4 separate regions of the Homo sapiens genome follow, and regions 2, 3 and 4 are each linked to region 1. The links come from fine-mapping of genetic effects on gene expression. A gene starts in region 1. Each other region holds a variant in brackets. All regions are shown on one strand. Distances are between the middles of the regions. Region 1 holds the start of SLC25A39 (solute carrier family 25 member 39). Region 2 overlaps GFAP (glial fibrillary acidic protein). Region 3 overlaps GPATCH8 (G-patch domain containing 8). Region 4 overlaps SLC4A1 (solute carrier family 4 member 1 (Diego blood group)).

What was found. PIP is the estimated chance that this variant, and not a neighbour inherited with it, causes the effect.
Region 2: its variant is the best candidate, but not a certain one, in a credible set for the expression of SLC25A39 in gastroesophageal junction (GTEx, PIP 0.81).
Region 3: its variant is the best candidate, but not a certain one, in a credible set for the expression of SLC25A39 in lung (GTEx, PIP 0.85).
Region 4: its variant is the best candidate, but not a certain one, in a credible set for the expression of SLC25A39 in B cells (Fairfax 2012, PIP 0.70).

What each region holds. Positions count from the first base shown.
Region 1 is chr17:44,321,943-44,327,132 of GRCh38, forward strand. SLC25A39 (solute carrier family 25 member 39) reads right to left here and starts at 2,881. Exons shown (of 12, transcript NM_001143780.3): 1 at 2,769-2,881; 2 at 1,536-1,635; 3 at 1,342-1,401; 4 at 866-910; 5 at 477-610. The coding sequence starts at 1,620. LOC124904009 (a long non-coding RNA gene) reads left to right here and starts at 3,511. Exons shown (of 2, transcript XR_007065768.1): 1 at 3,511-3,679; 2 at 5,000-5,190. RefSeq lists silencers at 2,424-2,643, 2,664-3,093, enhancers at 3,194-3,383, 3,544-3,623, 3,674-3,733, 3,804-4,655, 3,914-3,963 and 1 more and a cis regulatory region at 4,628-5,190.
Region 2 is chr17:44,907,781-44,912,970 of GRCh38, forward strand. It overlaps GFAP (glial fibrillary acidic protein), which reads right to left. Exons shown (of 9, transcript NM_002055.5): 5 at 3,892-4,017; 6 at 3,456-3,676; 7 at 2,835-2,878; 8 at 284-369. Among named protein-coding and RNA genes, the nearest start is that of GFAP, 5.1 kb to the right of the region's middle. RefSeq lists an enhancer at 3,406-3,515 and a silencer at 3,726-3,795. The variant G/A (reference allele first, on the strand shown) is at 2,364.
Region 3 is chr17:44,418,500-44,423,689 of GRCh38, forward strand. All of the region lies in intron 6 of GPATCH8 (G-patch domain containing 8), which reads right to left. Among named protein-coding and RNA genes, the nearest start is that of ITGA2B, 31 kb to the left of the region's middle. RefSeq lists an enhancer at 2,684-3,657. The variant C/T (reference allele first, on the strand shown) is at 3,140.
Region 4 is chr17:44,247,338-44,252,337 of GRCh38, forward strand. It overlaps SLC4A1 (solute carrier family 4 member 1 (Diego blood group)), which reads right to left. Exons shown (of 20, transcript NM_000342.4): 18 at 4,082-4,251; 19 at 3,822-3,995; 20 at 1,053-3,201. The coding sequence ends at 3,121. Among named protein-coding and RNA genes, the nearest start is that of SLC4A1, 18 kb to the right of the region's middle. The variant G/T (reference allele first, on the strand shown) is at 2,788.

The sequences.
Region 1 (5,190 bases):
ACCCTTCAAAAACCTTATGGAGGCCAGGCACGGTGGCTCACATATGTAATCCCAGCCAGCACTTTGGGAGGCCAAGGCGGATAAATCACTTGAGGCAGGAGTTCGAGACCAGCCTGGCCAACACGGCAAAACCCTGTCTCTACTAAAAATACAAAAATTAGCGGCAGGTGGTGGTGCACGCTTGTAATCCCAGCTACTTCGGAGGCTGAGACAGGAGAACCACTTGAACCCAGGAGACAGAGGTTGCAGTGAGCTGAGATCACACCACCGCACTCCAGCCTGGGTGACAGAGCGAGACTCTGTCTAAAAGAAAACAAACACCCCATGGAGGTACTGCCTTCTCCGGAAGCACTTCCTGACGGAACCGGCTACCTCTGCGTGCCTTGCCCAATCCCTTTACTCCTGGGTCTGCTGCCCAGCCAGACCGAACTCCTCACGGACACCGACGAATCCCTACGGACCCAGCTGCTCCTCACCATGGTGCCAGTGAAGCGGGTAGGGTCTTGAAACCAGGTGGCACAGCGGGCACCATTTGGGCACAGGTACAGAGGCTCCAGGACACCATTGCAATACAGGAGGCACTTCCCTGTGGATTGGAGAGAGGAGGGCACTGGGGAAAGGCAGGGGGCATTATAATGACAGGATCCTAGAACCTTGCAGGGAGGCAGTGGGCCCCTATCCCTGGAAGGCCAGTAAAGGCCAGGTCCCTGTGTGGATGTTCTGGTGCAGGTCACAGGACTGGCTGGCAGGACCTGGGAGTATATGCTAGTCCATGGCTGTGGAGCCCACTGGTGCCCTGGGGACAGGGACAAGGACTGTCTCCCCCTTGCACCCTCCCATGCTCCCTGTGGCTTGGGGCACTCACATTTGGTATAGGAGAGGCTCCACAGTCTGGAGGAAGGCATCAGCTCTAAAATACAAGGCAGCCCCTCAAGTCAGGAGAGCCCCCACCCGCCCTAGGGACCCCATCTCTGGGAGATCTTTTTATTTTATTTTTTGAGATGGAGTCTTGCTCTGTCGCCCACCCTGGAGCATAGTGGCACAATCTCAGCTCACTGCAACCTCCACCTTCCCGGTTCAAGCGATTCTCCTGCCTCAGCCTCCCAGGTAGCTGGGACTACAGGCGCATGCCACCAAGCCCGGCTAATTTTTGTAGTTTTAGTAGTGAGAGAGTTTCACCACGTTGGCCAGGCTGGCCTTGAACTCCTGATCTCAGGTGATCCACCCACCTCAGCCTCCCAAAGCGCTGGGATTACAGGTATGAGAAACCACGGCCAGCCTCTGGGAGATCTTTCTTTTGCCCAGGCACCACCCCTCACTAGTTCCAGGTCAGGTACTCACCGCTGGCCATGGAGGGCCGCTGAGACTGCAGGCGAACCTTCACCACGTCCAGGGGTGTCACTGGGGGAGGAAGCGGGTCTGAAGGCTCCTTTCAGGACCCCACCCCTAGGACTCCTCCCCCAGGACCACACAGCCTCCAATCTCCGGTCTGCCCCATCCCCACCCGCCCCCACCCCACCTCCCCTAGGTCTTACTGAAGAGAGAGGTAACCACAGCCCCGGTGCCTGAGGCCACCATTTGCTGGAGGGGGCTGATGCCCGCAGGGTCCTGGTCAGCCATCTTGAAGCTTCAGTCCTGAAAACCAAACCTCAAACAGACCACAACTCCAGGGATGGCAGGAAAGGAGGCTGGGCCACTGTGAGACTTTTGTTTTGAGACGGCGTCTCGCTCTGCGCACTGTTGCCAGGCTGGAGTGCAGTGGCACCATCTTGGCTCACTGCAACATCCACCCCCGTTCAAGCGGTTCTCTTGCTTCAGCCTCCCAAGTAGCTGGGACTACAGGCGCGCACCACCACGCCTAGTTAATTTTTGCATTTTTAGTAGAGACAGGGTTTCACCATGTTGGCCAAGATGATCTCGATCTCCTGACCTCGTGATCCGCCCGCCTCAGCCTCCCAAAGCACTGGGATTACAGGCGTGAGCCACCGCACCCGGCCCACTGTGAGACTTTAACCCAACCCTCATCCACCGCCCTCGAAACATCTGTTGCCTCAACAACCCTGGCAATGACCTCTAAAGCAGGGACTGTCCGCCCCCCTCCGCCGGGGAAAACTAAGGCTCGGGGAGACGAGGTGGCCTGCCCAAGGTCACTCAGGAGTGGTTCCGAAGGAAGCTAGGGTGCCAGACCTATCGCTCGAATGCAGTAGGAGCCAGGGTCCTTCCCTCGTCCACCTCGCACGTGTCCACTGCGCACCTCCTACGTGCAGGCGCGGATTTGGCCCTCGTGGCCCCAAAATCAGAGTACCTGTGCTGCCCCCACAGCCCCCACTCCAGCACCAAGGCCCCGGGCAGGCACCTGAGAGCCCAAGTTACTGGGCGTGGAGGGACGGCCGGGCATCGAGGGTGACGTGTAAACAGATCCGGTGACCAAGAAGGGCCCGTCGCCTCCTCAGGACTGCGGGCTGGGATGCCCGGCCCTCCCCGCCCGGCCGGACGGGCCAGACCCGGGGCCCGGAGAGAAAGAGCAGTCTCTGGGTTCCCGCCCCAAAATGCAGGCCCGGGGCGCAGCCGGGAGAGCGGGAAGTAGGAACGTAGGACCAGGACGTCTCCCCGACCCTCGGCGACACTCCCGGCCCCGAACGGCGGAGAGCCGCCAGGTGAGGGGGACCACGCCAGCTCGACGGCCCCAGCACCTGCCCTGGCTCGCACGGCCGCCCGGAGACCCCCGCTTCCGTCTCCGCCCCCAGCCCCGGCCCAGTGCCGCCTACCTGGCTCTAGGCTGGTGCTCGTGCGGCGCGGCGCCCAGGGTCAGGCGGGCCCATACCGGCTCCGCCGCCTGTGCGCGGTCCGCGCGCGCTCGCAGCGCACCTAGGCCGACGCCGAAAGCAGCCAAGGGGGCCCCGCCCCTACACCGCGCCACGAGGCCCCGCCCGCCGCGGGCCGACCAGCCGCAAGCCCGGAGTGTCCCCGGCTCCGCCCACTCGCGTCTCCGCCCGGACCTGCGACGGTCCCGCCCCCTTGACGGGGCCGCGCGGGCGAGTTCCATGCCTGTCCAGCGCTGAGAGCTGCCGGCCAACTTCGCGGTCTCCACGTCGCGCTTAACGTGGCAGCAGCACGCACTTCCAGCATCTTTTTTTAGACAGCATCTTTTTCAGCCTCGCTCTGTCGCCGAGGCTGGAGGGCAGTGGCGCGATCTAGGCTCACTGCAGCCTTGACCTCCCGGGTTCAAGCGATCCTCCTGCCTCAGCCTCCGGAGTAGCTGGGACCACAGGCGCGCGCCGCCACGCCCGGCTGGTTTGTTACTTTTATTTTTGTCTCCCTATTTTGCCCAGGCTAGTCTGGAACTCCTGGGCTCAAGCGATCCGCCCACCTCGGTCTTCGAAAGTGCTGGGATTCCAGGCGTGAGCCGCCGCGCCGGCCTTAACAGCGCATTTTCACCAGCCCCGCCCCGGCCGCGCGCGGCACTGGAAACCCCAGCGCCTTCTGGACGGCGAGGGTGACGCACTGGCCCTCTTCCTCGGTGTCCTCAGGTGCGTGGCGGCGGCAGTGAGAATGAGTTCTTCGAGATCGCCGGGAGACCACACAATAACGACGAAGTTACTTGCCGGGCTACCCGCCGAGACTTGAAAACTTCGCGGCGACTTCTCTCGCCGGCCTTAGCATCGCCCCCATTTTTCAGGTTACAGGACAGGCCTGCAACTGCAAAACGCTTTGTAAACCACAGGGCCCCGCGCGGGTGTGCGCCACTGGGTTAGCTGAGCTGCAGCCCGGGCCGGGCGGGCTGGGACGTGAGCAAGCCGGGGGAGACGGGAGAGCCATGGGGAGCCAGATCCCACCTTCGCGTGACCTTGGGCAAATCACAACCTCGCCTAAGGCCCGGAATGACTCTGCGCGGAGAGGAAGAGCACTGAGTGCGGGAGGGCATCGACGTTTTGGTGTTGGTTGCTCTCGTATCGTGATTTCTTCTGAGTCTCAAAACTCTTTGCAGTAGGTTATTGTTGAAATAGATTACCACAGGCCGGGCGCGGTGGCTCACGCCTGTAATCCAGCACTTTAGGAGGCCGAGGCGGGCGGATCACTTGAAGTCAGGAGTTCGAGACCAGCCTGGCCAACATGGTGAAACCCCGTCTCTACTAAAAATACAAAAGTAGCCGGGCATGATGGCTGGCGCCTGTAATCCCAGCTACTCGGGAGGCTGAGGCAGGAGAATCGCTTGAACCCGGCCGGCGGAGGTTGCAGTGAGCCGAGATCGCACCACTGCATTCCAGCCTGGGCAACAGAGTAACACTCCGTCTCAAAAAAAAAGGCCGGGCGCAGTGGCTTACGCCTGTAATCCCAGCCTTTTTGGAGGCCGAGGCGGGCGGATCACCAGAGGTCAGGAGTTCGAGAGCAGCCTGACCAACATGGTGAAACCTCGTCTCTACTAAAAATACAAAAAATTAGCCGGGCGTGGTGGCGCATGCCAGTAATCCCAGCCACTCGAGAGGCTGAGGCAGGAGAATCGCTTAAACCCGGAAGGCGGAGGTTGCGGTGAGCCGAGACTGCGCCATTGCACTCCAGCCTGGGCAACAAGAGCGAAACTCCGTCTGAAAAAGAAATAGATTACCCCGTTTTACAGAAAGTGAAACTGAGGCTCGACGTGAAGAGCCGGAGATTCGAACCGGCCGGGTGCTTTTCCCAGGGCTCCACACTGCCTCCCCGGGAGACAGGAAGGCTTAAGTCCAGCGCTGCCCTCTCCGATCCCGCTTGTCAGGGAGACACTTTATTTCCCGGGGCAGCCCCGTACCCCAGGCCCCACCACCCACTTCGCGTTTAGAACTTCTGTGCTATCTTGCTTATTTGTCCTAACAGAGAAACCAGCACGCGCGGGCGGTGGCGGAGGGGGGCGGGCGGGCGGGTGGAGGCGGGGGGGGGCGGGCGGGGAGATGGGTACTCCTAGCCTGCGCCTTTAAGAAGGGTAGGCCTCGACTTTGACGTCTCTGCCTTCCCCGCCCTTCAGGCCCCCACTGGTCGCGTCCGGCGCTGGAGGAGCCCAGTCAGCCGGCGCCTGCCGGGTTAGCACGTGGACTCCGAGGGGCCAACTATCAGCTTTCCCTGACAAAATGCCTTTGAGCTCCCCCACAGCTCTGAAACTCCAGCTTGGGAGCAGGGAGAGTGCAATCTGTGACCTGTAAAGGGGCGCTGGGCAAA
Region 2 (5,190 bases), 590 kb after region 1:
CCCTGGCAAGCAAGGCCCCCGAGTTTGAGGGTGAGAAAGAGAGAGTGTGTATTAGGATCCCATCTAGTGGCTTTGGTACCAAGGCTCCCCTTAGAACAGCCTATGGAGGGACTGAGGAAACGGAATTACATTCAGTTTCCTTGCTCTCCTCCAGAATTCCCTGGGGAGCTACTGGGAGTTGCTGGGAACCTTCTATGTGCCAGCCCCAGGCTTTCCTCCATGGCCTGGCCTTGAGAATCCCTGGGGCCAGCCAGAGCCTGACTGGGCCCAAATCCCTCCTTACCTCTCCATCCCGCATCTCCACGGTCTTCACCACGATGTTCCTCTTGAGGTGGCCTTCTGACACAGACTTGGTGTCCAGGCTGGTTTCTGCAGATGTGGGGAGAGGAGGCCTCTCATGGACTTTCAGGGCATGAGCCATCCTCTCCCATGCCCGGCTTCCCCATCGCACCCCCCTCCCCATCATGAGTATGAGAACCTATGCAACCGAGCAGAGAGAGCCTAGGCTCTTCCAAACGGGCTGGAGAGCCCCCAAATCCCAATAGTGCTGCTGCCAGAGTCCTGGCTGCTCTGTCTTCTGGCCTGGCTTCATTTCAGCCCCTCTGCAAGCCCTGGCCTGGCACCTGGCTTTCTGAAAACCCAGCACGGTATTGAAATCAGGAGACCAGGAGGGGTGCGGTGGCTCACACCTATAATGCCATCATTTTGGGAGGCTGAGGCAGGTGGATCACCTGACGCCAGGAGTTCGAGACCAGCCTGGCCAACATAGTGAAACCTCTACTAAAAATACAAAAAATAGGCCAGGCATGGTGGCTCACACCTGTAATCCCAGCACTTTGGGAGGCCGAGGCAGGTGGATCGCCTGAGGTCAGGAGTTTGAGACCAGCCTGACTAATATGGTGAAACCCTGTCTCTACTAAAAATACAAAAATTAGTCAGGCATGGTGACAGGTGCCTGTAGTCCCAGCTACTCAGGAGGCTGAGAGAGGAGAATCACTTGAACCTGGGAGGCGGAGGTTGCAGTAAGCTGCGATCGTGCCACTGCACTCCAGCCTGAGCAACAGAGTAAGACTCCGTCGAAAGCAGGCAAGCAAGCAAGCAAGCAAGCAGGAAAGAGAAAGGAAGGAAGGAAGGAAGGAAGGAAGAAAGAAAGAAAGAAAGAAAAAGAAAGATTAGCCAGGTGTGGTGGCTCGCACCTGTAATCCCCTTACTCGGGAGTCTGAGGCACGAGAATTGCTTGAACCTGGGAGGTGGAGGTTGCAGTGAGCCAAGATTGCACTACTGCATTCCAGCCTGAGTGACAGAGGGACGCTCTGCCGAAGGAAGGAAGGAAAGAAGGAAGGAAGGAAGAAAAGAAGGAAGGAAGGAAGGAAGGATCAGGAGACCAGAGCTCAAGAAGTCCCAACTTAGCCACCAACCAGCCACATGACTCTGGGCAAGTTAATTGACCTCTCCCAGCCTCAGTTTCCTCATCTGTAAAATAAGGATGATGGGGCCTACTTCTCTAGGTGGGAGAGAGGAGACAATTAACTAAAATAAAGGCTGTTAAACATGTGGCACATATTAGTGCTCAATACACATAGGTCCCTTTCCTGTCCCCTTTCCTCTTTCCTACTTCTCTCTGCCATTTATCTGTGCTTTAGTGACCTGTGACTATCTAGGATTTGGCAGTATTACCTCTACTAGTCAGCCTGGTTAGCCTTTCTGATGCTGAATTAAGTCCTGAGACATGCATATCTAGTGGTCCTAAATATTCTAGTCCAGAAGAAGAGGAATTTTGTTCCTTAGCTAAGAATCATTTCAGGGCCAATGCAAGTAAAAAGTAATTTAGCTCCCCCCTCCCCCCGCCCCGCCCGAGAGAGAAAAATATAACACGTCACATTCACTAATATTTAACATTAAGAGCAGGGAACATAAAACTTTATTCACTGCAAGAGCTGCGGTCCTGAGGGAAGAATCCTCTGAACTGAGTCAGCACTGAGCTGAGCGATGGAGCCTCAGGGATGAAAGAATAAAGCAGAGAGCCTGGCGTCCAGGCACAGCGAGACCCAAGGGGCCCTCCCAGTGACAGGAAGAGGTGAGACAGAGGCTGCTGCTTGCTCAGAGGCCCCAGAGCAGCTCCACTGCGCACCCAAGGACTCACCACCTTTACCACTAACAAGCTCTGCCAGTTTAATGTACAGTTACTCTGTACCACGTCCTGGGCTGGGCACTGCAGTTCCTGGGAAAATGACGCAGTCCAGGCCCTTTAGGGGAAGCCTGGGAAGAGGGAACTCAGGGGGATTGGGAGGATGGGGTGGGTGAGGCTCACTCCCTGTCAAGCTGGGCAAAGCGCCGTGTCTGAGAGGCAGGCAGCTAACCGC[G/A]AGCCGGCGGCGTTCCATTTACAATCTGGTGAGCCTGTATTGGTATAACTCGTATTGTGAGGCTTTTGAGATATCTTGTGACCTTGTGATTTTCCCCGTCTTTGGTGCTTTTGCCCCCTGTAGTGACAAGCAGTTAAAAAAACAAAAACAGAAAACACTCAGAAGGGCAGTGCTTGCTCAGGGATCTGCAGACAGGGCAGATGTCAAGCTCTCACCCAGTTCTGCTGTCGAATGGGGTGCAGGGAGGGGAAGAGGGACCAGGGCCTAGCAGGACAGGGGCAGCTGCAAGCCCCACCTAGAAGTACCCTGGTATGATAGGCTCTGGCTAGGAGCGCTGCAGTGTCACGAAGGCCCCCAGGGAGAGCTGGATCCCTTTGCCCTGATCCTCAGTCCCAGTCTGGAGCAACCTACAGGCCCTGGAGGAGGGGGCAGGACTCCAGTGCCCTTCCCACGAGGCCCTGCTGTACTGACCTCGAATCTGCAGGTTGGAGAAGGTCTGCACGGGAATGGTGATCCTGAAAGAAAGCAGAGGGAGAGGGCTGCCCGGGCTGCCTGGGACACCCCTAGGCTGGGTCTTGGTGCGGGGCCATCATGACAACTTGAACGCCCTTTTCCTTGCCAGGAAAGTCTAACTCCATCTCCTAGCTTTTTCCCCAGCAGCCAACGTGCTATCTGGAGTTCCAAACGTCTGCAAGGGGCTTGAGTGTTATCTGGGAGGGGCGCATGTCTATCTGAAGGAAGATGGAAAAGGGAGGGGAAAGTGGTGAAGAAAGTTCCAAGGAGGCAGAAGAGATGGGTGAGGTGAGGAGTCCAATCTTGGCTGGGAAGATGGGGAGTATGCCTCTTAGTTTGGAGGGTGACCCAAGTCCTTGGCCTTGAGGCCTAATCAATATTGGTTGAATCCATCCATCCATTCAGTCATCAAACATCTAGTGACTGCCTGCTATGTGTGAGGCAGGCACTGTGCTGGGCATTGAGGTGGGAAGGGATCTGCACACAAGGCTGAAAAAGACTCAGTCCCTGAAGGGAGCAAGATGAGCTCTACCGTGAGGCAGCAGGGAGACTTCCCCAGGGGCTGTGATGAGGGCTCACCGGTTCTCCTCGCCCTCTAGCAGCTTCCTGTAGGTGGCGATCTCGATGTCCAGGGCCAGCTTGACATTGAGCAGGTCCTGGTACTCCTGCAAGTGGCGGGCCATCTCGTCCTTGAGGCTCTGCCCCTCTTCCTCCAGCCGCGCCAGCGCCTCCTGATAACTGGCCGCCTCCCGCACGTGCCGCTCCTCCTGCTCGCGCATCTGCCTCTCCAGGGACTCGTTCTGTGGGATGGAGCCGGCCGGTCCCGCGGAGCCCCGACCCGACTTGGGGAGGTTTCGAGGCCCGGCCCCCGGCCCCAGGCCCCGCCTCTAGCCCGGGGGTAACGTTCAGGCCCCGCCCTCGACCCAGGTCCTCGTCCCTGGCCCTTCTCCCCTGGCATCTCCTGGGGTGGCCGTCCCTGCTCCGCCCGTCCCCGTCCTGCCCTGGCCGCGCTCACCGTGCCGCGCAGAGACTCCAGGTCGCAGGTCAAGGACTGCAACTGGCGCCGGTAGTCGTTGGCTTCGTGCTTGGCCTGGCGGAGCAGCTCCGCGTTGCGGGCAGCAGCGTCTGTCAGGTCTGCAAACTAGGTGGGGGACACATATGGGGGGCTGTGTGGGCCCATGGGCAGGCACGGGCTCTGGGAAATCAGGGAGGTGAGCAGCACCCCAGTTAACCCCAGGACGTTGGCCCTGGCTGGGACTTTTCCCAACAACTGTGACCCATGGATGCGGGCAGGGTAGCGGGCTGCCAGACCTCAGCACCTAGCACAACACCTGGTCAGCAAGCGAATGAATGAACAGTGCCACAGAATCCAGAACCTTCCACACTGACAGCTGCATCTGCGGGACTGAACGCTGTCGTCTTAGGCGAGCGGAGGCCTGGGTGTTTTGTGTGTTTTTGTTTTTTTGTTTTTTTTGTTTTATTTTGAGACAGAGTCTTGCTCTTGTCGCCCAGGTTGGAAGTCAGTGGCACAATCCCGGGTCACTGCAACCTCTGCCTCCCAGGTTCAAGCAATTCTCCTGCCCCAGCCACCTGAGTAGCTGGGATTACAGGCATGCGCCACTACACCCGGCTGATTTTGTATTTTTAGTAGAGACGGGGTTTCACCATGTTGACCAGGCTAGTCTTGAACTGCTGACCTCAGGTGATCCGCATGCCTCGGCCTCCCAAAGTGCTGGGATTACAGGTGTGAGCCACCTCGCCTGGCCTCACCCTGGGTTCTAATAGCCCTTTCTCCCCTGCCTGCAGGGAGGTCCTCCCAGCCCCATCGGGCCCTCACCCTGCTCAGACACCAGTGGCTTCTGCCACTCACACTCCTCAGCTAGGTGCCCTGGCTAGGCTAGCATCTTGGGGCCCTGCCTCTCTGTGCTTTTCTGCCTCCAGGCTCTGTCCTCCACTAGGAATGGCCCTCCCTTCTTCTCTTCCTGTCCACAGCGTGCCTGTCCTGCCTAGCCCAAATGCCCCCTCTACAGTGTCTTTCCTGGCTCCCACACTACATATAAGCTCTGAGCTGTGGTGTTCTCTACGGGCACTATGTTTGGGTGCACGTCAATATCACACCTTCCAGGTCAGACACCTCTCTGTGTCCTGGGGGGTGCCTGGCATATGGTAGAGGCTCAGTAACCCAAAACAGACTGGCAGAGGCATGGAATGCAGGCTCCCAAGTGAGATGTGCTAGAGTTGGAAATCCAACTCTACCACTTAGGAGCTGTGTGACTTTGAGCAAATTAGTTAACCTCTCTGGACTTCGGCTCTC
Region 3 (5,190 bases), 97 kb after region 1:
GCTGGAGTGCAGTGGCATGATCTTGGCTCACTGCAACTTCCACCTCCCGGATTCAGGCAATTCTCCTGCCTCAGCCTCCCCAGTAGCTGGGACTACAGGCACGTGCTGCCACGCCCGGCTTTTTTGTATTTTTAGTAGAGAGGGGTTTTCACCATGTTAGCCAGGATGGTCTCGATCTCCTGACCTTGTGATCCGCCAGCCTCGGCCTCCCAAAGTGCTGGGATTACAGGCGTGAGCCACCGCGCCCGGCTAGTCAGTGCTAATGTCTATTGAGCATTCAGGTGTTATCAGAATTAACTCATGTAAAAAGGAATCATATATTGGATTTCTTCAGAAATGGAAAGGCCTACTCTTAGAGATTTCAAAATGTATTAACATCGATCACTTGAAAACTAGGGTTAAACTACTGAAAAGAGCCAAAATACTTAATCAGCTTCTGTATCTCTGAAGATCAAGCTGGGTCTTAATATTTTTGTGTTAACAACTCTTCGTAAAATCTTGGAAAACCTGAGAAAAACTAGTGAATATAAAGAGGCACATAACACCCCCGCATCCTGTCAGGAAAAAAACAACTCAAACCTTGAATGAGGGTGACCATATAGCTCCTTTTGGAGAGATTATTTGTGCTTATTAAAGAGAAGGGTATGTTTAGGATCCTGCCTCTACTATAGTTTACTACTAACGTAATACATTATTTCTCTGAAAAATATTAATGGTGAAAATCTGATAGAAGATGCAAACTAGGGATTGCTAATACAGGGTTGAAAGTACTTACCTATTATCTCAGATTCATAATAATCCTGTGTGCCTTCCTGGAAGACAAGACAGGGTGTCTTTATGATTTTAGAGCATGAATTTGGAAAAATGGTAGGTCCATTTGTATGTTAAGTTCATGTCCATCAAAGAGGAATGAAAAATATGTCCTTCCTCCTGTTAGGGGTTATGTGGCTGTGTTGTACCAAGGTCAATTAAAGATTCCTTAGAAATTATTTTTTTTTGTTGTCCGAGACAGGGTCTTGCTCTGTCACCCAGGCTAGGGTATAGTGGCATGATCACAGCTTATTGCAACCTCAAACTCCTGGGCTCAAGCGATCCTCCTGGCTTAGCCTCACAAGTAGCTCGGACTTACACTACATGTGCGTGTCACCACATCAGGGTAATTTTTTTTTTTTTTTTAGAGAGACAGAGTCTTGCTCTGTCACCCAGGCTGAGGTGCAGTGGCACGAGCATAGCTCACTGCAGCCTTGAACTCCTGGCCTCAACAGATCTTCCTGCCTCAGCCTCCTCAGTAGCTGGGATTATAGGCATGAGCCACTGCACCCAGTGGGTTCCTCAGACATTCCAAGTTCAGGGAAGAGACGAACTATGAAAAATTTAGTGCTGTGCTTCTTTTGTTTATATATTTATAACATTCTGTTTTGAGATCCTACTGTTTGCATTAGAACAGCAGTATGAAGAAAGGTGAAAAAGCCTACCTTTCAAGCAAATGAAGAACATTTCACCAAAAACCAAAACCAAAACCAAACTTGTACTACATGGTTTTTTTTTTTTTTAATGCGTAAGATGAGCTTTTAAGATGAAGAAATAAACTCACATGCATTCATTCATCATACCAGCTAAAGATTTTTCCTAGACCAGGGATCACAGATATATATTCTGTATTAGTGAACAGGCAGTCCATGAGTTCTCCATGGGTAACCCTTAATTTTGTATTTTTATTTTGATGGTACTCTAAAGAAGAGTAATAAGTGAATATTCTGGATCACCTAGATGAGCACTTTATAAATGTTTACAACATAACTTGGGACTTAAAATGACAATAATTTGTTTGTACTAAGGTCAAATGACACCACAATATCATATATATACGAAAGTTTTTAATTAATTCTGATAGAATAGGGTTTTCAACTGCAGCACTATTAACTGCCATTTTGCCTCTTTGTTTCAAGGAGCTTTTCTGTGCATTGTAGATGTTACCAGCATTGCTGGCCTCAACCTACTAGATGCCAGTAGTATCACACCCTTAGTTGGGACAACCAAAAATGTACAGAGGCATTGCCAAGTGCCTCCAGAGTGACAAAATCTCCCTAGTTTGAGAGCAAATGCAATAGAGAAAAGTGGTGGGAGAGCTGAGGTAACACAAGGTGTGCAGGAGAATAAACATGTCAAATTCAAATGAACCAAAGATGTAACAATTTCTACTACATTCAGGTTGAGGACAGTGTCACTAAAACATTATCATACAACACATTAATGCTGTCAATGTGAATTTTATTACATTGTAAATCTGTTTTGCTTTTTTTCCCTTAAAAGGCAAGTCTATACATTATTGAAGTTTGAATTATACTTTTTCCTGGTTTACTTTTTTCTTTATTTTTGAGATGGAGTCTTGCTCTGTCACTTAGGCTGGAGTGCAGTGGTGCCATCTTGGCTCACTGCAACCTCCACCTCCCAGACTCAAGCAATTCTCCTGCCTCGAGCAGCTGGGACTACTAGCCAGGCCACCACGCCTGGCTAATTTTTTTTATTTTTAGTAGAGACGGGGTTTCACCAAGTTGGACAGGCTGGTCTTGAACTCCTGACCTCAACTGATCTGCCCGCCTTGGCCTTCCAAAGTGCTGGGATTATACTGTGTGAGCCACCACACCCAGCCTATTGTTTTCTAGTTAAAACTTTTTTTTCTTTACAAAAATTAGCCGGGCGTGGTGGCGCATGCCTGTAATTCCAGCTACTCTGGGGGCTGAGGCAGGAGAATCGCTTGAACCCAGGAGGCGGAGGTTGCAGTGAGCCGAGATCGCGCCATTGCACTTCAGCCTGGGCAACAAGAGTGAAACTCCATCTCAAGAAAAACAAACAAACAAAAAAACCTTTTTTTTCTTTTCTTGAGATGGAGTCTCGCTCTGTCACCCAGGCTGGAGTGCAGTGGCACGATCTCGGCTCACTATAACCTCTGCCTCCCGGATTCAAGTGATTCTCTTGCCTCAGCCTCCTGAGAAGCTGGGACTACAGGTGCACACTACCATGCCCAGCTAATTTTTGTATTTTCAATGGAGATGGGGTTTCGCCATGTTGGCCAGGCTGGTCTGGAACTCCTGACCTCAGGTGAACTCCCCCTCAGCTTCCCAAAGTGCTGGGATTA[C/T]AGGCACGAGCCACCGCACCTGGCCTCTTTTCTAGTTAAAACTTGACTCTGAAGTCATCGACTAGTGTGTAACCTTTCTTTCTTTTTCTTTTTTCTTTTTTTTTTTGAGACAGGGTCTTGCTCTGTCACCCAGGCTGAAGTACAGCGACATGATCTTGCCTCACCACAAAATCCGCCTCCCAGGTTCAGGCAATTCTCGTGCCTCGAACCCCCAAGCAGCTGGGATTACAGGCGTGCACCACCATGCCTGGCTAATTTTTGTAGTTTTAGTAGAGACAGGGTTTTGCTATGTTGGCCAGGCTGGTCTCGAATTGGCTTCATGTGACTCTGTCCATCTCAGCCTCCCAAAGTGCTGGGATTATAGGCATGAGCCACTGCACCTGGCCTAACCTTTCTAATGCCATTTTTCCACCTAAAATATCTTTTCTGTTAATATATCACAGATATTTCTTAATTGAAAAAATTCTCAAGAACCCCAAAACTTGAGTATATACTTAGATACTAAATGTCTTAATTAAATAAAGATAATCTGAAAGAGTTTTTTATTTGTTTTGTTTTTTTGAGACAAGGTCTTGCTCTGTTGCCCAGTGTGAAGTGCAGTGGCATGATCATGGCTCACTGCAACCTCAAACTCCTGGGCTCAAGCGATTCTAACACCTCGGCTTCTGGAGTAGCTGCGATTACACATGTGCCACCACACCCAGCTAATTACATTTTTTGTAATTAGCTTAGATTGGGGGGCAGGTCTTGTACATTGCTCAGGGTGGTCTCGAACTCCTGGGCTCAAGTGATCCTCCTGCCCTGGCTTTGCAAAGTGCTGCGATTACAGGTGCGAGCCACCGTGCCTAGCCTAAAATTTTTTTTTTTTTGAGACGGAGTCTTGCTCTGTCACCCAGGCTGGAGTGCAGTGGTGCGATCTCGGCTCACTGCAAGCTCCGCCTCCCGGGTTCACGCCATTCTCCTGCCTCAGCCTCTCCGAGTAGCTGGGACTACAGGCGCTCGCTACCAGGCCCGGCTAATTTTTTGTATTTTTAGTAGAGACAGGGTTTCACCGTGGTCTTGATCTCCTGACCTCGTGATCCGCCCGCCTCGGCCTCCCAAAGTGCTGGGATTACAAGCGTGAGCCACCGCACCCGGCCGGCCTAACATTTTTAAATTATAAATACTTTGAAAAACTGGAAAAGGTCCTGGATAGAAGTATTCACTGTTGAATTTTTCTTTCCTGAAAAACCAGTCTTTGAAAGAGTAAAAAAGTAACTGCCAATACAGCTTGTCTATATATATATGCTCTATAAATTTCTCTTCTTCGAATCAAGCAAAGCTGACAATGTATTAAAAGAATGTCCACGGCCGGGCGCAGTGGCTCACACCTGTAATCCCAGCACTTTGGGAGGCCGAGGTGGGCGGATCACGAGGTCAGGAGTTCGCCCCATCTCTACTAAAAATACAAAAATTAGCTGGGCATGGTGGCAGGCACCTGTAATCCCAGCTACTCAGGAGGCTGAGGCAGGAGAATCACTTGAAACCAGAAGGTGGAGGTTGCAGTGAGCTGAGATCCACCACTGCACTCCAGCTTGGGCGAAAGAGCAAAACTCCGTCTCAAAAAAACAGAAAAGAATGTCCAAAGGTATGTAGTAAGTTGAAAAGCTGTCTTGAATACAAGTCCATTAGTGGAAGAATCTTAAATTGGTTAGGTATATTTAAATGGGGGAGACTGTTCCAAAAAAGTGTAATACCACAACCAGCTTACAAATTCTTCCAGTTCTAGTAAGAATAAAACTTGGTCAAAGATTGCCTTTTACCTGTGCACTGAAATCTTATGGTTGGTGGAAGATGAAGGCTAAAAAAAAATCTTAGTTCAACAAGTCCAGCTTAGGAGACATCATTCCAATGCTCATAAATTTACAAGTTTAACAAATACAACTATTGTACCCCCCAAAAACCTAGTAAGTTATGTTAAAGTCACCCAAGATCAAATGGCTTGAAATTCTTTAACAAGCCAGAACTGTCCTATAGGTGTAACAATTTATTTTTCCCTTCTAAACTCTCCC
Region 4 (5,000 bases), 75 kb before region 1:
AGGCAGCATTTATTCCCCTAAGTCCAGATATGATGAGCTGGAAAAGGATGGAAAGGATCCTTTTCCAGGCGATGGAAAGGATCTACCAGGAAGAATTAGCCCAGTAGAAAACGGAGACCCAGAGAGGGGACTGGCTTTTCCCAGGTTGCACAGCCAGCCTGTGGAAGAGGCCTGGGGATGCCGGTGGCCTGAGCTCTCTTCAGGCTTGTCTCATAGCCTGACTTCTGGGTACATGGACGTGGGGAATGGAGGGTCTGGCAAGCCCTGGGGACAGGGCCAGGGCTGTGGGGATCTGCAGCTGCTGTGTGTGGGAGGTGGACGCTGGGACGGCTCTCCCCTGGCAGAGTTAGCTCTCTGACCCTTTGGCAGCTGCCCTGGCTAGCCTGGGAGGGGTCAGCTGGGGATAGGCAGTAAATATAGATCTAGGGCAGGAAGCCAGGCGGCCCAGCCCTGCACTGACCTCTCGTTGGAAGTCTAGGGAGGGCAGATGTCCAGTCCTGGAACCCTCCTCTCCCGGGGTGGGGGACACCTAGCCCAGCAACACCCTAGAATTGCTGGAAGTGGTTGGGGGTAGGGGACAGAGCCTCCAAAGGGGACCAGGATGAGGGTAAGCAGAAAGCTGGCCAGGAGACGCTGTGCCTGTGTGGCCATGTGCCCTCTCTGGGCCTCTGTTTTCTTCTCTGGTCATCTCTGTCAAAGGTGCTGTCCAGCTTCCCGGTAAGGGGTCCACTGATCTAAAGGGAATTGGGGGCTCACAAGTATAAGGAGCAGGGGGCAAGGTCCCCTTACAGTCCCTCCTCCCACCCCCACAGGTCTTGCTTATTCAGGAGAGGAAGGAGTCTCAGAGCATAATCTCATCTCTTGCTCCCTACCCACTCTCTGGGTGCTGGCCTCCCACCCTAGGGCTCAGGGTCACACCTCAGCCTGGCTCCCCTTGCTGCATAGATGCAGCCCTGTGCCAGGCCCGTGCCACACACACCATGCCCACCTAGTTCAGCCAAGACCCCCGGGACCCCCGACTCTGGGAACGGGAATTCAGGCAAGGCAGCCACTCCAACACAGATACGTTTATTGGCAAAACCTATTCCCAGGCATCAAGGGGAAGGGTGCTAGCAGAGTGAATAATTTTTGTTTTTCACTTTCCTTGGCCATGTTCAAGGAGCAAGGGGAGGGGGAGACAGGGACATCCCAGTCAAGATAAGGAGGATCCCAGCAGCTCCCCTCCGAGGTTGGGCTCTTCACCAACCAAGGCCTTTTCTTGCACTGTCTCCTTTAATCCTTATAACAACACTGCAAGGTAGGTACCATTATCATCCCCATTTTACAGACGAGGAAACTGAACTGTAGCATGGGCGAAGTGGTGAAAGGTGGGTGTCAGCTTTCAGGGACAGGAGAGCCTCCCATGGACTGAGCTAGCCTGGGAGGTACAAATAATGTTACTCTATGTTGGGCTGGAACCCCACCACACACACATGTTGAGTCTGTGGCCCCCAAGGCTGATGTTTCCTTCCGTTTTTTTTTTTTTTTTTTTTTTTTTTTTGAGACAGGGTCTCGCTCTGTTGCCCAGGCTGGAGTGCAGTGGTGCAATCTTGGCTCACTGCAACCTCCACCTCCTGGGTTCAGGTGATTCTCTTGCCTCAGCCTTCTAAGTAGCTGGGATTACAGGTGCCTGCCACGAGACACCCAGCTAATTTTTGTATTTTTAGTAGTAACGGGGTTTCACCATGTTGGCCAGGCTGGTCTCAAACTCCTGACCTCAAATGATCCGCCCAACTTGGCCTCCCAAAGTGCTGGGATTACAAACGTGAGCCACTGCGCCCAGCCACCTCCTCTCTTTTCTACCACTTCCTGATTCTGTTTCCTCCATCTCTCACCACTTTCACGTCTTTCAACTCTTTTTATCTTTTTGTTTTATAAAAAAATAAATTTGCCCATGTTCTTGGAGAGCCTGCTGTCTCCTACCCCAATTGGTCAGATCTGGGTTCTCCCCAAGATTCAGTTTAGATGGAGTTGAGGATAATGGCTCTCAAATGAGGGGCCTGAAGTTGTGTGTGAAGCCAAACTATGTTGAAAACTCTTAGAAAATACGCAATTAATAAATTACAAACCCCCTCACTCTCCCGCCCCTACCTTCCCACCCTCCCCCACTCCCTATCCAAATGTAGAATCAACTGTACCTTGCCCCCCACCCCCACCCCAGGGCAGGGCTTGTCTCAGTCCCCTCGGAGTCCACTGATTCCGGGGCCCTCAGTAAATGTTTGTGGAATGAATGAATGAGTGAACTAATGAGTGTTTGGAGGGAGGAACCAAACACTTAGGAGGCCTGAGTCCCAGGCCCAATCCCTGGATCATCCTTGCCTGTACCTTGTCCTCACCAGGACGCCTCTCTCTGGGCCCAGAGAAGAGGGTCTCAAGGTAGGGGCTGGGAGCAGAGTGGGGAAGGGAGGAGTCACAGGGGAAGGGAAAGTGGACGCATGACTGACAGAGGACAGAGCTCGGACCTTGAAATCAGAAGGCCTGGTTCAAATCCCAGCTGCACGGCTCAGTTCAAATCCCAGCTATGTGACCTTGGGTACGTTCAAAGACAAATGATGACTGCTATAGAACAGTCCCTGTGGAGTTTACAAAGCCCTATTTTACATGTATCTTTGGTCCTCAGTAACCATCCTGTAATGTGGGTATTATCATCAATATACCCATTTTACAGAAGAGGAAATATAGGCTGGAAAGGTCAAGGGACTTGCCCAAGGTCACACAGCAAGCACCCCACCCGCTCACCCACCTCCT[G/T]CCTTTGCTTCTACCCCTGCCTGTGCTGGGAAGAGGGAGGGCTCAGATCTAAGTCTTCCAGCACGGGATCCCCAGTGAAAGTGTGGCAACAGGAGGGACTGTGCAACAAACCCCCTAATGTGGGCCCCATCGGCCATCCCCAGCCAGAAAAGCCAGGCTACCCTTTGTGGAAGGTCTCCTGGACACGCCTTCCTTCCCCACCCACAGCCCTGGGGCCTCAGCTGCTGCTCCAGGAGGATCCTGGAGTCCATGAGGTGCCCATGAACTTCTGCTTTTCCTTGGAAGGTGGGGATGTGGAATGGTGGGGGAGGGTCTAGGGCCTGGGCCCGCCCCTCACACAGGCATGGCCACTTCGTCGTATTCATCCCGACCTTCCTCCTCATCAAAGGTTGCCTTGGCATCATCAGCATCCAGCTGGAGGGGAGGGACAGGAGAGAGACAGGGTGAGAGACCCTGGGGCCAGAAGAGCCCTCCCCGGGCACGAAAGGCACCTCTGGAGTTAGGAGAGGGTCTGGCTGTCTTGAACCTTGGACCAGTCCTGTTTTATCTCCCCAGCAGCTAGGACTGGCCTAAATGAGTCGTTGTCAAAGTGAGAGGCAACCCCGGGGATGTGGACCCTGGCAGGGGAGGGCCTGCAGAGGGTGAGCAGGGGACCTTTTCACCAAGGCGGCCCCACAGTGACCTGAGTCACCCTGTGGAAGAATCCTATTAGAGGAGTGACTCTGTCCCAAATGACTCGGAAGACGGCAGGACTTGCTGCTTAGGGGTCCAGCTCACTCACAGCACACCCTGTCTGCCTCTTGACGCTCTCCCCAGTCGTGCCATCATTTCCCCCTTTACAGGTGAGCAAAATGAAGACACAGAGAAACAAGGCCCCGTGCTCCAGATCATATGCTAGGACACAGCAGGCCAGAACCTGGACACCAGCCCTAGCCCCAGACTTTACCCATGACTCTGTCCTGCCTGCCCTAGTTCTGAGACGCGCCCCTCGCATGCTCCCAGCTCTTGTGCCCCAGGCCCAGGCAGCCACTCACACACTGAAGCTCCACGTTCCTGAAGATGAGCGGCAGCAGGACGCGCCGCAGCGGCACAGTGAGGATGAGGACGAAGGGCAGGGCCAGGGAGGCCGGCGTGGACTTCACCACCCACAGCACTGCCAGGCAGATGATCTGGATGCCCGTGAATAAGTGCATGCGCCAGGTCTTCACCTGCAGGCGGAGGCTGGGGTCAGTGCCTATCACACCCCAGCACCCTCTACCACCCCAGGCTGGGCAGCCAGAAAAGGGTCCTGTACCCGCTTGACGTAGGGCACATCTGGGTGATACTTGGGTGGCTTGAACAGAAGCAAGATGCGGTCAAAGAGCTGGATGCCGCTGAGCGACGTGACCCCCATGTAGAGGAAGATGCCAAACAGTACAGCCAGGGGGATGCGGGACAGGATGGGCTCCATGAGGATGGACAGGCCTGTGGGGGAGCCGCACACTCTCAGCCCAGGTTGCCCGAGGCCTGGCACCAGTGGGGGGTCAGGCCCCTATCTGGGGCTGGGAATAAAACACAGGCACCATATGGAGCCATTTCTTTTTTCCTTTTCTTTTCTTTTTTTTTTTTTTTTTTTGTTTTTTTTTTTGAGACAGGATCTCGCTCTGTCACCCAAGCCAGAGTGCAGTAGTGTGATCTCGGCTCACAACAGACTTAACCTCCTGATCCCAAGTGATCCTCCCGCTTCAGTGTCCCTAGTTGCTGGAACTACAGGCACATACAACCACACCTGGATCATTTTTTTTTTTTTTAATTTTTAGTAGAGACAAGGTCTCACTATGTTGCCCAGGCTAGTCTTGAACTCCTGGGCTCAAGTGATTCTCCTGCCTTGGCCTCCCAAAGTGTTGAGATCCCACGCCTGGCCTGGAGCTATTCCTATGGGTCTTTTTTTTTTTTTTTTTTTTTTTTTTGAGGCGGAGTCTCACTCTGTTGCCCAGGCTGGAGTGCAGTGGTGCAATCTCAGCTCACTTCAACCTCCGCCTCCTGGGTTCAAGCAATTCTCCTGCCTCAGCCTCCCAAGTAGCTGGGATTATAGGCGTGCGACACCACGCCCAGCTGATTTTGTAATTTTAGTAGAGACGTGGTTTCACCATGTTGGACAGGGTGACCCACCTGCCTCAGTCTCCCAAAGTGCTGGGATTACAGGCGTGAGCCACAACCCCCGGCCTCTATCG